2 separate regions of the Homo sapiens genome follow, and region 2 is linked to region 1. Evidence: fine-mapped expression QTL. A gene starts in region 1. The other region holds a variant in brackets. All regions are shown on one strand. Distances are from middle to middle.

Region 1 (8,000 bases):
CCCTACATAACACTAGCAAAAAGAATCTCTCCCTGCTTCCCTGGTCTAGCCTGGAAAAAAAGAATGACCCAAACAGTCCCTACAGAACCAGTGACACCCCAGAGGATCTGAAGTCTCTAGCCCTGAATGTGAAATAGAAACCATCCCCCTACCTGTCCTATTCTGAGAGGTGTGTCCAGAAGAGACTGTGGATATGAACCCATTTTAGGTTGCAATGACATCAAAATACAATGGGACTAATGATCTTTAGAGCCACAGTCAAGAAAGGATAGAGTGGCTGGAACACAGGGGGGAGAACACTTCTAAGAACCCATCCTGAAGATATTCTTACACAAGTGTACAAAGATGTGTGTACAATGAGGCTCACTGCAGTATTACATGTAAGATTTAAAAGTAATAATCATAAGTATGGTATATCCATATAACTAAATACTATGTAATCGATATAAAGATAACGAATAAAACAAGAAACGAAGAATATTAATGTATCAATGGGATTATGGTGGTAACTGCCAGAACAAAAACCAGAGTGGTTCAAAGTGGTTACCTCAACTTTTGTTAAACAAGACGATGGCCGGAACAAAGAGCACGTAAGAGACAAAGGTTGATAAGCCACGTCAACACACTTGGGAGACGGAAGGCAAATGGGGTGATTTGCAGAACAGAGAAAGCAAGATACTCCCGTATGCAGAGAGGTGGACACCTTTGAAAAAAGCCTAAATTCCAGAACCCTGGAAAAGCTCAGAACTGGAGGAGGCAGGGAACCTGAGAGTCTCCAAATCTCGAGACGAGCCAAAATAAGGAGAAATGCCAGACTCAGAAAACTGGGTGGTAAGACCTTCAGCCCCTGCCCCATAGTTGGCTCCAGAAACACGGATAAAACTGGCAAAATCCATCTCCTAGGAGAGGAGGATTTTTCTCTGGAGAAACTAAAAATCCCAGAGAAAACATCTGTAAGGTACAGACATTGGGGCATTCTTCACCAAAATGACTGAGTCCCTGTTAGTCACTCTACAATAAAGTCCATCAACTGACAAACTCTGTCTAGGTACAAAGCATTTACTCAGCTTTGTACAAACTGCAAAAGCTCAACAGACAACTAAAGGATGCTTTCAACAGAAAACAGAGACAGACAAATAAATGGAAGAATTTGGGAGAGAGAGACAGGGCAGGGAGCAAAAGAAAACTTAGGAGAAAAAAACAGGAAAAAACTTCGATTAATATCCTCAGAGAAAGAAAAGAATATACTGCATCTAAAACCAAGAACAGGGTGCTAATTCAAAAAGGACAGTTAGAGAACAAGAAAAAATTCTTGGAAATTCAAGGTATAAGATCTGAAATAAATCTGGAAAAGTCAGAAATTTTAGGGATGTTCCCTGAAGGAAGAACCCTCCCCCACCCCACACACACCCAGAAAAAATATGAGAAAAACATAAGAAAATTAGAGGATCAGTTCAGGAGTCTAATATCTAAAGGGCAGGAGTTCCAGAAACCAAGAAAAGAAAAAATGGAGGGAAAGAAATGAACACAGGAATACTTCAAGCACACAGCTCTGAACTGAAGGCACAAGTATTCATTGTGAAATGTCAGAACACTGAAGATAAGGGGGGAAGATCCTAAAAATTTCAAGTTAGCAAATACTGGTCATATGCAAAGGACTAAGAATCAGAATGGCAACAGACTTCTCAACAGCAAATTTAGAAGCCAGAAAACAACAAAGCAATGCCTTCAAAAGTCTGAAAGAAAATAATTTTCAATCTAAACAAGTCAAACCATCAACCTGTATGAGGGCAGAATACAGATTTTCAAACATGTTAGAACTTATAAAATCTACCCCGTGTATGCTTTCTTAGGACGTTCCTAGAGTTAAGAGTCCACCAGAACAAGGGAATGAATCAAGAAAGAGGAAGGCATGAGATCCAGGAAGCAGGTGAAGGAGAGTCCCAGGAGGCCTTGACAGCAACTAATTCAGCCTCCAGGAGACAGAAAGCTGTAAGATAAATGTCTCCAGAGGAAAATAAAAAAGGAAGTAAAGAACTCAAATGAGTTTCATAAATCTTAGAGTTTGGGAAGAATTATTAAGCAATAACCAAACAAATGAAAGCAATGATCTAACTAGTTAAGATCAGATCTATATTTGCATACTATACTTGTCTACAATCACTTTAATATTGATTTAACCAATAATTGTGATGTACCTATACCTTGAGCAAGGGAAACTGAATTCTCATCTTCCATAACATGATGTCAGTAGAAGATATAAACTGCTAAATCAGTAAATAGCAATATAAACCTTTATTTTGAAATAGAAATAAGTAGGCAAGGAAAAATACCTAAAAAGTGTCCAGAGTGGAGCAGCAGCCTGCTTTGTGTCAAAAAGCTGTGTAGTACTCTTGACTTTTAAAAATCATCTTCACGAATTACTTTACTACTATTAATTAAAAAAAACAACTGGTTACCTCTGAAGAGGGAGTCTATGTGAAGGATTGGGGTGAGGAAAACTTTTTCCATTTTGTGTACTTTTGCACCACATGAACTACTTTTAAAAAATCAAATGCATATATGGGTTTTATAATTTAAGGAAGAAAACAAAACATTACTCCTACCTAGCCAAAGGTAATAAAAACTGGGACAAAAGGGAAGGAATAGACTTAAGAAATCCCCAAAATAAGATCTCTAAGACTTGGTGACTTAGCAATGTGTTCAATCACATGGAAGAGAAAGCTCCTCTTGTATATATAAACATAAGAAAAATTACATAACTAACCTATGAAAATTTACCTTCACAATAATTGATGTAATAAGTCGTTCAGTGGCAGGTTAAATTTGGAAAGTTAATAACAGTAATAACAATGTTATTATTATTAGAGACAGAGTCTCGTATTATTGCCCAGGCTGGAGTGCAGTGGTATGATCATACCTCACTGTACCTCAAACTCCTGGGCTCAAGGGATCCTCCCACCTCAGCCTCCTGAATAGCTGGGACACAGGTGCACACCACCAGGCTCTGGAAATTTTTGTAGTTTATTTTGCAGAGGCAGGGCCTTGCTATGTTGCCCAGGCTGGTCTCGAACTTCCAGCCTCAAGCAATCCTCCCACCTCGGCATTCCAAAGTGTTGGGATTACAAGTGTGGGCTACTGGGCCCAGCCATTAATTATTATTTTGCCCAGCTTTCAAACCAAGATGGTAGCTACTCATTCTTTTCTGTTAAATGCAAATGGTTAAGAATATCAATCTCCATTACAGGTTTCTGACCAAATTTTCTCAACACACTACAACACTGTTTTAAAAGATTTAAAGTTGCTCATTACAGATTTGGCATTATAATATTTATTTCAGAACAAACTTTAAACCCCAGTAGATCCCACTCGCTTCTGAAATGACTATTTTTGACAATCCTTGAACACTGAGGCTTTCTTGAGCATGACTTTTTACCCTGCCTAGATGGAAAAACCATTCTTTGAAGCAGCTCCTCAAAATTTGGACTTAGCTGCTTCCTCACCTGATGTGCGAGTACAATTGCCTAAGAGTATAATCCAAAAACGACTTGCTGAAACTCATAGATGATTCATGTCTCTATTCTGTCCTGCTCCTCCTCAAACGAGCCAGATCTTAGAGGCGTTTGTTTTCCCCAGATACAAAGAAAATAAAATGAGGTTGGCACCTGGAAGAGGCAGTGCCGTCCGCAAAGCCAAAGCAATGTAACCACTTGTACCTTAACTCTTCTCCGTTTTCTCCCCTTTTCTTCCCCTGGAATCTGCTTCTCTCCTTTCTTTCTCTTTTTCCGCTTTCTGTCCTTGTGTTTGTCATGATCGTTTTTGTCTTCGAAGAGGCTGGAGTCGTGCCCCGAGCTGCCCGTGGAGAGTTCGGTGACTTCGTTCCCTCCTACTTTGAGGACCAGCTTCAAGGGCTTCTCTACATACTCTTAAAAAAAGAAAAGAAAAGAAAGGAAAGCGCGTCGATTAAAATCGGGGCTCTCCAGGGAGTGCTAAGGATGCAGAGCGCCAAGGCGCAGCAAGCCCGAGGCGGCTTTGGGCGCTCCGCGAAGCACCTGTTGAATGACGGACCCCGGCCCGGGGGTGCGGCGGCGCCGCCCGCCCCGAACGCTCCCAGGCCTCCCGGGCCCGCCTCACGTCTCCCCACCAGAGACCCACCGGACCAGGGGGACCCGGGTTCGAATGCCGCGGCCGCACGGGGGGCAGCGCGGCCTCCGGCAGGACGCGCCCCCTTCGCCGGCCTGGGCCTGCCGTGGGAAGGAAGGGCCCCGGGCCGCCCCGGAGCCACTGGGAAAGAGCGGAAGCCCGGCAGAGCCGCCGAGGGCCCGCCGCCCGCACCCCGGCCCCCTCCTCACCCTCGTAGAGGTGTTTGTCCGACTTGTGCTTCTTGTGCTTCTTGCCCATGTCCGACCGGGCCCCGGTGCCCGCCCCCCGCGCCAGGCCCAGGCCGTGCGGCGCCGCTTCCGGTCCGGGCCAGGCGAGCGGAGGGCGGGAGCGGGGCCCGCGAGACCCCGCGCCGCGAGGCAGGGGGGCGGCGCGCGCCGGGCGGCGCGATGCCCCTCTCGAGAAGACGGCGCGCGAGACCCGGCCGGAGCCCGAGAGCGGCGGCGGGGGGGGCGCGCGGCCGGCGCAGAGGCGGGAAAGAAGGCCCGCCGCGCGCACAGGGTGCCGGCGGCTGCGGGTGGCGGCCCCTGGCGACCGGAGGTGGTGCTGCAGCTCGCGGGCCGGGGGCGGGGCCGAGGGCGGGGCCGGGGCGGGATCCACCGCTCAGACTCTCGTCTTTCTTCCTTCCTCCCTTTCCCCTCAATTTGTCTGTCTTGTCTCTGTCTCTGTGTGTCTCTCCCTCCGTCTCCACTTCCCTCCCTTCTTTTTACTCCCTCCCTCTCTTTCTTTCTCTTTCCCTTCTTCCCTTCCTTCCTCCTTCCTTCCTTTCTTTCTTCCCTCCTTACTGCCTCCCTTCAAGCCTTCCTTCTCTCTTTTCTTCCTCCCTCATCACCCTTCCTTCTCCTCTTCCCGTCTCCTTCCCTCTTTTTTTCTTTTCTTTTTTTCCCCTTCCTCCTTCCCCCACTCTTCCTTTCTTTCCACTTTCCCTTGCTTCTGTTTCTTCCCTTTTACGATATTGACTGAACCCCATACTGGGTGCCAGACCCAGCAAACTCAGCACATTGGTGACTGAAGATTCTAATCTTAAAAAAAACTTATGTGCTGATAGGTGAAGGTTACCAGACGTTTTGACTGTCTTTACTTCTAGCTGTATGGTGCTTTGTCTGTTTTCAGATAAGCTCGTAATTATAGTCTCCTCTTAAGAAAGGATCTGTTATCAGTCATTTATACTTTAGTAACAATTTAGACCCATGAATCACCTCTCCCAGGAAGATTTGTAGCTTTACCTTGAACTTCAGTGGTGAAATTATAGGCTTATATTTTAGGACCCTATTGTTGGCAACTAATAGAAACCAATTTGAATTATTTCAAGTAAATAAAAAGGGATTTATTGGTTTACATGTCTAGAAAGGGCAAGAATAAAGCTTGCCAGAGGGAAGACAGGAACCAAGGATGTAATGCTGTTGACTGGCATGCCAGCTCGCTCTCTCTCTTGTCTCTCTGTATATCGGTCTCCATCTCCCCCCTTCTTTCCTATATGGCTGGAAACATGGCCACCATCTGCTTCTGAGGCCTCTTCTTTATAGTGTCCTGACCAACTGGGAAAAAGATCTCTTCCTGTCAGCTTCACCTGGAAAACAGTCCCAGGGAAGGACTCTGATTGGCTTGGCTTGTGTCACATGTTTTATGGGACAGGGGATGGGAGATTGATTCGGCCTGGATGCCAAATCTACCCCCTCACCCCCTTGGCCAAGAGAAGTGGAGTCTGTGATTGGCAGCTCCTGCCAGACTTCTATGGTTAGCCAGGGAAGATGAGGTTCTTCTAATGAAGAGAGTTGCTTTTTCATGAAAGCTAAAAGTGTGTGTCTATTATTTCCCTGTAACAAGCCTCTCTGGTGTCCGTGAGGCAGAGATCAGGGTGTGGGAAGAGGGGTTGTGTTGGGGAAGAGACCTTCTGCTGCTCTGAAATCAAGCCAGCTAGGCCCCCTAGGCCCCCTAAGCATAGGGCAAAGCTTGGTTTCAGCTTTTCATCCACTGTCTGTAACTTATTTTGCTTTAAGAACCACTATGCCAACTCCCACTGTGGGTCTGGCCTCTATTGTGGCATTGCCTTGCTCCAGGCTCAACCTGTGGGTTTACCTGTCTGCTCCTCATTACCCTGGGTACCTCCTTGGTACTTACAGTGCCTAGCACAGTGACTACTACTGTCCAAATGCCCCTCAGAGGAAAAAGGTCTGGTGAACTCATCCATACTATCAAGTTAGTAATTTCCCTACCCTCTCAAGAGTGATTCTACATAGGTCACAAAGTGGTCACATCAATGGAAAGTGAATAAGAGTACGTAGCAGAAAACACCTCCCAGAAAAATGTTCCTGGAAGTGGAAGCCCAAATTCATCTAGTTTTAAATTCTCAGCACTAATACCATGCCTGGCACATAGAAGGCACCAGAAAATGCTAGTTGAGCTGCACGGTCCTGGTTCGGGCAGACTCCCCTGAGAGATTTCTGCCTGCTGCCATTCATGACCTCCCAGTGAGTGTAGAATGGCCTGGAGACTGGCTTCAGAGCAATAGAATATGGCAAAGATGATGGACGTCACTCCTGTGTTGAGGATACATAAGACTTCAGTCTTACTTGCTGACCGTCTCTCTTGCCTTCTTGGCTTGCATGTTTTGATGAAGTAAGCTGCCATGCTGGAGAAGCCCATGTGACAAAGACCTGAGGCTGGGCCCCAGTTGACATCCGGCTACAACTGAGGCTATCAGTCCAACAGCCTTGAAGGATTGAATCCTGCCAGCAACTGTGTGAGCTTCAAAGTGGATCCTTCCTCAGTGGAACATTCAGATGAGACCTCAGCCCTGGCTGACATCCTGATCACAGCCCTGTGAGAGTCCCAGAAGCAGAGGCCCCAGTTAAGCTGTGCCCAGACTTCTCCCCCAACAGCCCAACAGCTCTTGAGTGAGTGAGACAGAGCTGACTTGAGTCCTGGGGTCACAGATGCTTACAGGGTCTGTGACTTTGGCATGTCCTGAGAGGGCTGCCTACCTCTGAACCTTGGAACCAGGGTGAGGTCATTGGGTGTGCTGCTGCAACAGGGTGGTTGTAAGGATCAAAGAAGATAATGTGGTCAGAGTGCCGAGAGTAATGCCTGATATGGTAGATAGTAAATGGTCAATAAATATCAGCTGCTAATACTAACTTTTAAATATTTGTGAATGTCACTTTCCTGCTCAAAACCATCTTGTGGCTCCCTGTCTCACTCGAAGTCAAAGCCAAATCTGCACCTTGGCTTTCAGGGCCGGATCTGGCCCTCATTCTCTTTCCAGCCCCATCCCCCTGCCCCCTCCTCCCTCCTGCCCCAAGCCCCTGCTTCTCTTCCCTGTGTTCAGAACACTCTCCCCTGAGCTCCTGGAGTGGCTCCTGCCCTCACATCACCTTGGTCTCCCCTGTGACCACCTCAGAGAAGCTTCTGGACCACCAACCCACACACCCCTTCCCCTCTTCCCTCAGCCTGTGCAATGCCTTGTTTCTCTCCATTGCACCTACAGCCTCCAAAATTATGTTGAATATCTCTTCCCTATCTGTGTGCGTGTCCACCATCTGTCCACTGGCTTCCCAGGTCCCCAAGGTTAGGGACTAGGTCTGTCTCACTCCTGGCTGTGTGCCCCGCACTTAGCACAGAGCTGGGCTCAGCACAGGCCCTGGAGAAATATTTGTTGGACAAATGAATACATCATAATTACTGTGTTGTGATAATAATTCTCTTCCTCCTTCCTCCCCTTTCTGGTGGAGACACGAGGTGACTGGAGCCCTCCGGGAGAGTCTGTGGAGGAGAAAGCCTGGCCACTGGGGGGTGTGGCATGCCCAGGAAATCTCTGCGCAGCTCAGCTTGGAGGTGGC
Region 2 (8,000 bases), 31 kb before region 1:
AAGGGGGCAGGGAGGGAAGGGGGCAAGGGTTCAGAAACTTCCTACTGGGTACTATGTTCACTATTTGGGTGATGGGTTCAAGAGAAGCTCAAATCTCAGCATCATGCAATATACCCACGTAACAAAATGGTGTATGTACCCCTTGAATCTAAAATTAAATAAAACCAACATGCTAAACAATATGATTTCAAAAGACCAGAATACAAATGTTTTCCTGTAAATTTAAATTCTGTAGTTCATGTTCCAATTTTAGAACATATTATAACTTCATTTTTTAAAAATCCAGTAAAAGAGGGTAAGATTAATCATGTACTTTACAAATGAACACAGATGGTCCTCAACTTACAATGGAGTTACATCCAACACGCCCACTGTAAGTTGAAAATATCATGAGTTGAAAATGCATTTAACACCCTGATAAACCCATTGTAGGGAATTGTCTGTCCATTATTAATTGTTTTTCTGCTAAGTATTATACTGATGAAGAGCTCTATGGCAGATATGGATTAAAAATACGCAAGCAATTTAAAAACTAAAAGTTTCAGATGCCCCAAATCAGTAGGTAGAGAAAAGAAAAGGCAAAGCTCAATCACCTGACTGTTCACAAGCCGCCTGGTCAGCTTTCCTCCAGATTCCTTCACGATGCGGTCAAGCTGCTCCTGCTCTCTCTCTAAATTATTGCTTTTAAACTTATCTTCAAGCATATCTTTGTCTTTCCTGAAAATATACATTAATACTAAGTAAAAAAAAAACAAAGATAAGTAAGATGAAAACATTCAAATGAATTCTAAATATGAATACAACTAAAGTGGAGACATTTGTACTACAGTCACTCATTGAAACTTACTTCCTTGATGACCTGTTAAGGGTCTCTAATTTAAGAACAGAAACAGTAAGGCACACCTAACATGTTATTTCCCTACCTTTTTCTGTCCAGTGTTACTTGTGTTAAACGTTTTTCTGGGAACTTACAAAAAAATTAGTTCTACCTCAAACATTACTTTGAAGGGAGAACAATATACCATTGTTCTTTTAAAGTTTGATTTTTAAAATTTAAAACAAGCACTTAAGTGTGTAAATCTTAGAACAAAGAAAAACTTGTCACTAGTTTACTTTCTTTGCATTATGACAGCAAAAATCCCAAACTGCTAACTACAACCCTCCCCAAAGTTGGCAGTGAGGTGCTGGGCGGTCAGGGCTGGCTCCCAGTAGTGTGAACGGGCAGATGCGGCTGCCGTCAGCTGCACAGGTGGCTGCCTAGGTGGAACAGTGGTTCAGCGTTGCTCCCACCAGCTGACATTGGGTGGAAAACATGGGCACGCTGCAGTGACAGCCCATCTGCTTAAGACGCAGCAGTGCCTGTGCTCCCACTGAACTCCTTGCTCCTTTATGGAAGGAGGTAATGACTATGCATTTTTTCTTAAACAAACAGTTCTATTTAAATAAACTCACTGACCATATCAGTCCCAAAAGACACTTTATAGGTTTTAAAACTACTTCAATAAGAATACACATTAGAACTGCTTTCTGAACTGTGTTTGGACAATCCCATATAGTGCTTCATATGAGAAGAGGGGTATCACACCATCAAAATGGACTTTCATGCCAAAACACCACCACCACCGACACACTAGCACTTGGTCTTCCCAAGTCAGGCCCCGAATAAGTATTTTTCCCCCTTACTAGCTTGAAGAAGACAGTTTGACCTTAACATCCCAAAGATCTTTTACTTTTTATTTTCTTTGCTGGGACTCTTGAAGGCGTGTGCTTCGGCATCTCCAGAGTCCTCTCTCTCTCTCTGCCAGCAGCCTCCGTCCTCCCCACTCTGTGAGGTGTCTGTTCCATCTTTCTGCTTTCGAGTTTTCTGCAAGTCAGCCATGAAGTCTATGCTCTGCTTCAGGCTCTGAATTCTTTCCTAAACATATTCGAAAATATTCTTATTATATGTTTGTCATTAACTTTTAAAGTAATGCATTTTTTTCCCCACAGGAGTTTATACTTATCCTGTCATTAACCAGGGAAGAAAAACAATTAAATGTAATCATATACCAAGAGAGTATTGTATTTGGAAACCATGATAATGCCTACACCTTCAATTCTTAAAATTTAATTTCCAACTTCATAGAAAGCTTTACAACTTTATTGCCCTATCAGAAATTTAACAGAGGAGAAAGTATGAATTAAGACTAAGTATTCTTTGAAGTACTGAATTGGAAGACTAAAATTTAGTTTAATGGTGTGTTAACATTTTGTGTTTAACAGACAGGCTTATCTTTTGACAGTTAAGAACTGTTAGGTGTATCAAAGCCTAGGGCATGTGAGCGTGTGAAGTCCCTCTCTGTTCTGGTAGCCCAGTGTGCTCACGGATGACGCTGGCATTTCACTCTGTGTGAAAACAACAAGCCTTGAGGAGAAGACAGTTGGTGGCACAGTTCCTTCCTCAGAGTGCAGAATGGTTTCGCTAACCAAAGAAGTCTTGTTTCTATTCTGTGAAACATGTGCTTAATTTTTCGCTGCAATGATGTGCTGTGAAATTTTCATTGTAGTTAAGGGCTTGAGGTTTCTCCGTAAATTTTAAGAAGGCATATTTGTTTCTACTGACTACCTTGCCTGTACTCTGAAAGTTATCACTGGGTAAAATAGAGTGCAACCTCCTTAGGGCTGCACAGCAACAGCAGGGAAGACTTCTGTGGAGTAACATAAACTAAGAACTAGAAAGAACCAGAGGCCATTCAAACAAGAACAACGCAGCCCAGGAACAACAAATGACTCACCTAAGGTCACTAAACCAGCAACTAAGACTAGGCTTGCTGTCACTCATGTTGGGCCTTTCCTCATCACACCATGCTCTATTAGTAGTGCAGATGGTGACATCCTCACCAACACAGTTCTTGCTGTTTTTTACTGGACTTTTAAAGTAATCTTAAAACCATTAAAGCGATCTATTTTATTGTGGACAAATAAAAATATGGGTAGAGGAGAAAATAAAAATCCTCCTAATGTCTCATCCAGAGAAGAACAGTGTTAACAAGTTTATTATTCCAGTACTTTTCCAACCATTACATAACCCAGCAAATTGGAATTATACTGAATATTTAGTAAAAAGCATTTTTTCAGTTAATAAATTATAAGCATTTCCTCTCCATATCAATAGATATTTAAAATATTTTAATAACTATTTAATCCCACGTCTACACCATGATTTAATTAATGGCCTATGATTGAACATTTAGATTTCCATGTTTCCACTATTATAAATAAAAGTACCATCAACATCATTATAAATAAATCTCTCTAGGAACCAGTATCTCTTTAGGATAAACTCTTAGAAAGGAAACAAAGTCAAAGGGAATGAATATTTTTGAGACTTTTGATAATTACTGCTTTCCAGAAAAGGTATACCAATTTACATACTAATTTACATTAGTGTTTGAAAGTTTCTCTGAATCCTTGACAAAATCAATAGTATCACTTAAAAAGCTAACCCATTAGAATCGCTTGAACCCGGGAGGCAGAGGTTGCAGTGAGCCGAGATTGCGCCACTGCACTCCAGCCTGGGTGACAGAGTGAGACTCCGTCTCAAAAAAACAAAACAAAAAACAAAAAACACAAACAACAACAAAAAGCAATCTTATTTGATTTTTAAAAACACGTTTTATTTTGCTACATTAAAAATATTAGTGAGTTTAATTATTTCTGTAAGTTCTCAGTAATAATTTTATTTCCACTCTAGAATTTTATAAAGCAGAACTTACATTAAGAATGCTTTGGGGTTTTAAAAAACACGACATGCACAAAATAAATTCAATTAGAGAAAGTTTCTAAACCTTGAAACAAGTCCCAGGAAAGAGTGAAGTTTAATTTTCCTTTGAAAGCAATGTCTTTTTCTTTTTTTGGTAATTAAAATGCCTCCAAGTCAGCACATTATTGATCTTCAATTTTACAATATTAAATGGCTAACAGGGCTGGTTCTTTGCTAATAATATAGCTAACATTTACTTAGTGCTTACCCATGTGCCAGACACAACTCCATGAGGTAAGTACTACTATTATCCCCACTTTACAGGACAGGAAAAAGGCTGACAAAGGTTACCTGGGCTAAAGTCACACAGCTTCCAAAGGGTAGAGCTAGGACTTGAACCTTGATTGGTCTGATTTCAAAGCCACTATGCTACAAATAGTATTGTTTGTACTACTTTGTTTGTACTACAATGCAGCATTTTACTCAAGTATTTATTTAGGAGATAAAAAGTTACTCTTCATCTGTTCATTCTTCTTTTTTTTTTTTTTTTTTTTTGAGACGGAGTTTCCCTCTTGTTGCCCAGGCTGGAGTGCAGTGGCGTGATCTTGGCTCACCACAACCTCCACCTCCCAGGTTCAAGCGATTCTCCTGCCTCAGCCTCCTGAGTAGCTGGAATTACAGGCATGCACCACCACGCCCAACTAATTTTGTATTTTTAGTAGAGACGGAGTTTTTCCATGTTGGTCATGCTGGTCTCAAACTCCTGACCTCAGATGATCCGCCCACCTCAGCCTCCCAAAGTGTTGGGATTACAGGCATGAGCCACTGT[T/G]CCTGGCCTCATCTGTTCATTCTTTATAAAAATAACACGTCTACTAATAGTTGTTATTTGAGTGTAACTGAAAAAATGATGAGTGACTACTCTACAATTTTTTCAATGAACATTCAAAAACAGTTATCTTTGAAAAGACACCATTCACGGAAGGGTGTGCTGGGCTCTCTTGGAGCACAAACTATTAGAAGAGTTAACTCAAAAGGTCTAAATTTAAACGTTTAAAAATCACTGTTGTGACGACCCCTCCCCTGTAGGGTGGAGAGAACAGTCAATAGGAAGCTAATAACACAGGATGGGTGGGGCTCCTCAACAGCAAAAGATCTGAAAAAAAGGAAGACAACAGAGAGAAAGAAAGAGGGAGAGAGGGAAGGGAAAGTGAAGAAAATTTTATTTTCTGTGCTTTCAACCATTCCACACGCCAGTAAAATTCAAGAGATAATGGAATCTTTTGCTTGTTGTATTAACTACATTACTTAAGGAAGTGGTAAATCAAAGGTCATTAAAAATTAGGCTCCCACCACCCAATTCAATGTACATATTTTGGAGTGACTAAAGGCTGCATTTGACAAATGCATTTTTACTTCAAATACATTAACAAGAAGCATTTCCATGTCTTTAAACCTGGAATATGGCATGGTTCTAGATTCTGAGAGTCTTCCTGCAAAGAATGGGTAAACATTTCATATTCCTCTTTCCTCTGCGAATGTTGTCAAAGATGGGTAACTGGCTTCCATTAGTTTCCCAAGTCTTTAGGAAAGGGTGGGAACCAAAGTTGTCTAAATATTAGGAGCGCAAGAATAATCAACAATCCAAACATGTTTTTCTTTCTCTAGTTAAGTGAATCCAAGAATCTCTCAGCCAAGCATACAGACACTCAGACATCTGCACACCAAGGCATTTCTTTAAATGTAAAACTGTAATACAGAAAAATGAATCACCATAAAAATCGAAAAACCACATGCAGATGCACGACTCATTTTTATCATCCTTTAACTCCCCTGAATGTGAGCTCAAGCTCTGGACTCTGATTCCTTTCTCCTTCTACCAGTGTCTTATACCCACTCATTTCTTCTTTGCAAAATCCCTGTCCTATCTTGTGGTTCTTTTTCATAGTATCCTCTCTACTCTACCTCTTATCTAGAATCAGAACAGTAATGCTAGAAATCATCTTGGAGACCACAGACTAAACCCTTCTTTAGGGATGAGAACACTGAGTCCCAGGGTAGTTAATGTCTTGCCCAAAGTCCACAAGTTAGTGGAAGAGAGCTAAAATGAAAACTCTCTTCTGCCTGCCTGCCATGGTATGGTATGGTGCCAGGATCACCCTTGATTCGTTCCCTAAAGTAGTCTCTTACATAGGTTTCTCCCACTCAGAGTGGTGAGAAAAACCTCAAAAGATATGGCTTATCTTGCGAGTTATTTTCTCCAGCGGATGCACAGTGATCATCTCAGCTTACCCTTCAAAGCCTTTTATCAACTGTCGTCCTGGGGACACTAGTAATTTTTTGCCACTGTGTATAATATCTCATGTTTACGCTCTTTCCTGCAGTTTGATGATGATGTGTCTGTGCCTACGCACACACTTCTCTGACCTCAAATGACTTACTATGCACTAATTCTTACCCTTTAAGGAAGAGTCTGCTGTTGTGGAGAGGTGGTTTTGAGACAGTTTCAAATTTTCTCTCATTTGTATATAGTCACATGTAGCTTAATGAAGGGACGCGTTCTGAGAAATGTACTGTTAGGCAATTTTGTTGTGTGACCATCAATGAGTACACTCACACAAACCTAGATGGTATAGCCTATCAGACACCTGGCTAAATGATATAGCCTACTGCTCCTAGGCTAGGAACCTATACAGCATGTTACCATACTGAATACTGCAGACAGCTGTAACACAATGCTAAGTATGTGTGCATTTAAATATAACAAAAGTACAGTAAAAATACAGTATTACAATCTTATGGAACCACCACTGTATATGCAGTCTGTATATACAGTATTATGCAGCGCATGACTGTATTTTCTTACTAGAAATTCTGTGCTTCTGACAGGACTGACCAACGTTAGATTCCACCCCTACAAATGCAAACAGAGAGCTTTCCTCTTCAGAGTTCTCACAATTCAGCCAGTCTTATCCTGGAATTCAGGCTGATGTTTCAAGCTGATGTTTTATGTCTTAAGAGATAATTACAAGTGAATGCCAATATTTATTTGTATTGATTCCAAGTAAGAATTTTCCTGTCTTAATTTTCTTCTCTTTATTAAAATTTTTTTCATTTAGTATTTTCTACTTTATTTAATATAATATAACCTGCTAATAAAATAAAATCAATACTGTATTGTATCTGTATTACTATGGCCAACAAACAGCGACACAGATTTTAATAACTATTATTTATGACAAAGAGTTTCCTTTACCTGGCTAAGAATTTTCATTCCTGAGTGCAACAGCTTCTTTGCAGCTTTATAATAAATGGTCTCTGGTTTATTGTAAATCATGGCATTAGTACACATTAGTTTGAAGTTATCCTGCAGAAAGAACATTAAGGGAGAAAATGCATTAATGCAAAACAAACTACCCTGCACCCCCAGGTTGAAAATATACAGGTCCTCTAAAAATTTAAAAAGCAACATCCCTTTCTTTATTTACTAAACAATACTAACAGTAATTTATTAAGTTTTAAGACTCACCAACAAAACAAATACTGCTAAATGTATTTAAATATGCTATATTATTTCCCAAATTCTTAAATATTTTATAGTACCTGTATATAAACTGTAGATCCCAGAATGAAACTTTTAAATGGGTTTCTTCAGTATAATCTTACTGCACATAAAAAAAATGTGAAGAAAATACTTCTATTTCATATGTAATGATTTTAGCTGAGTAGTTCATGTAAATAAAAAAAATATTACTCCTAGCTTTAAAACAAACATCTTAAATTTCCATTTAGGAATTGAACATTTTATTTCAGATCTTGACTGAAAACGGAGCAGTCCTAAATTATCGCAGTATTTCCTGCCAAATTCACATTAACTGAGCAAAAAATGTTAAAACATTTACACTACTTTTATGTGTTTGGATACTATCATAAACTAAACATAATTTGCAGAATGTTGCAAAACCATGCCAATGTGAAATAAACCATACAACCTCAAGGAGTTAAAACATGTAACTGGAGTAGCCAAATTACCAAAACTGTCTTTTTGGCTTAAATTTCCAAGTCCGCTATGTGCTGGAGAACTTGACCCCACTGCATGCTTTCATAGTTAAGTAATTTTTACATCTATAAATGTGCGATTCATTATGCCAAGGCCTTACTAAGTTGAAAGAAAAACCCAAGAAAAGAGAATCTGCCCCCTACAAATTTGTTTAAAAAACAAAAAAAATTCAAATTCCACTATTTAATAGTGATGACAGGT

What was found. PIP is the estimated chance that this variant, and not a neighbour inherited with it, causes the effect.
Region 2: its variant is fine-mapped to the expression of BRD7 in whole blood (TOPMed, PIP above 0.99). The same link has a PIP of 0.9 or more in blood mononuclear cells.

The regions. Positions count from the first base shown.
Region 1 is chr16:50,364,374-50,372,373 of GRCh38, forward strand. It overlaps BRD7 (bromodomain containing 7), which reads right to left and starts at 4,615. Exons shown (of 17, transcript NM_013263.5): 1 at 4,353-4,615; 2 at 3,717-3,925. The coding sequence starts at 4,401. RefSeq lists silencers at 4,004-4,513, 4,544-4,793.
Region 2 is chr16:50,332,981-50,340,980 of GRCh38, forward strand. BRD7 (bromodomain containing 7) reads right to left here. Exons shown (of 17, transcript NM_013263.5): 6 at 6,996-7,106; 7 at 1,731-1,915; 8 at 594-717. Among named protein-coding and RNA genes, the nearest start is that of BRD7, 32 kb to the right of the region's middle. RefSeq lists an enhancer at 2,626-2,705. The variant T/G (reference allele first, on the strand shown) is at 4,572.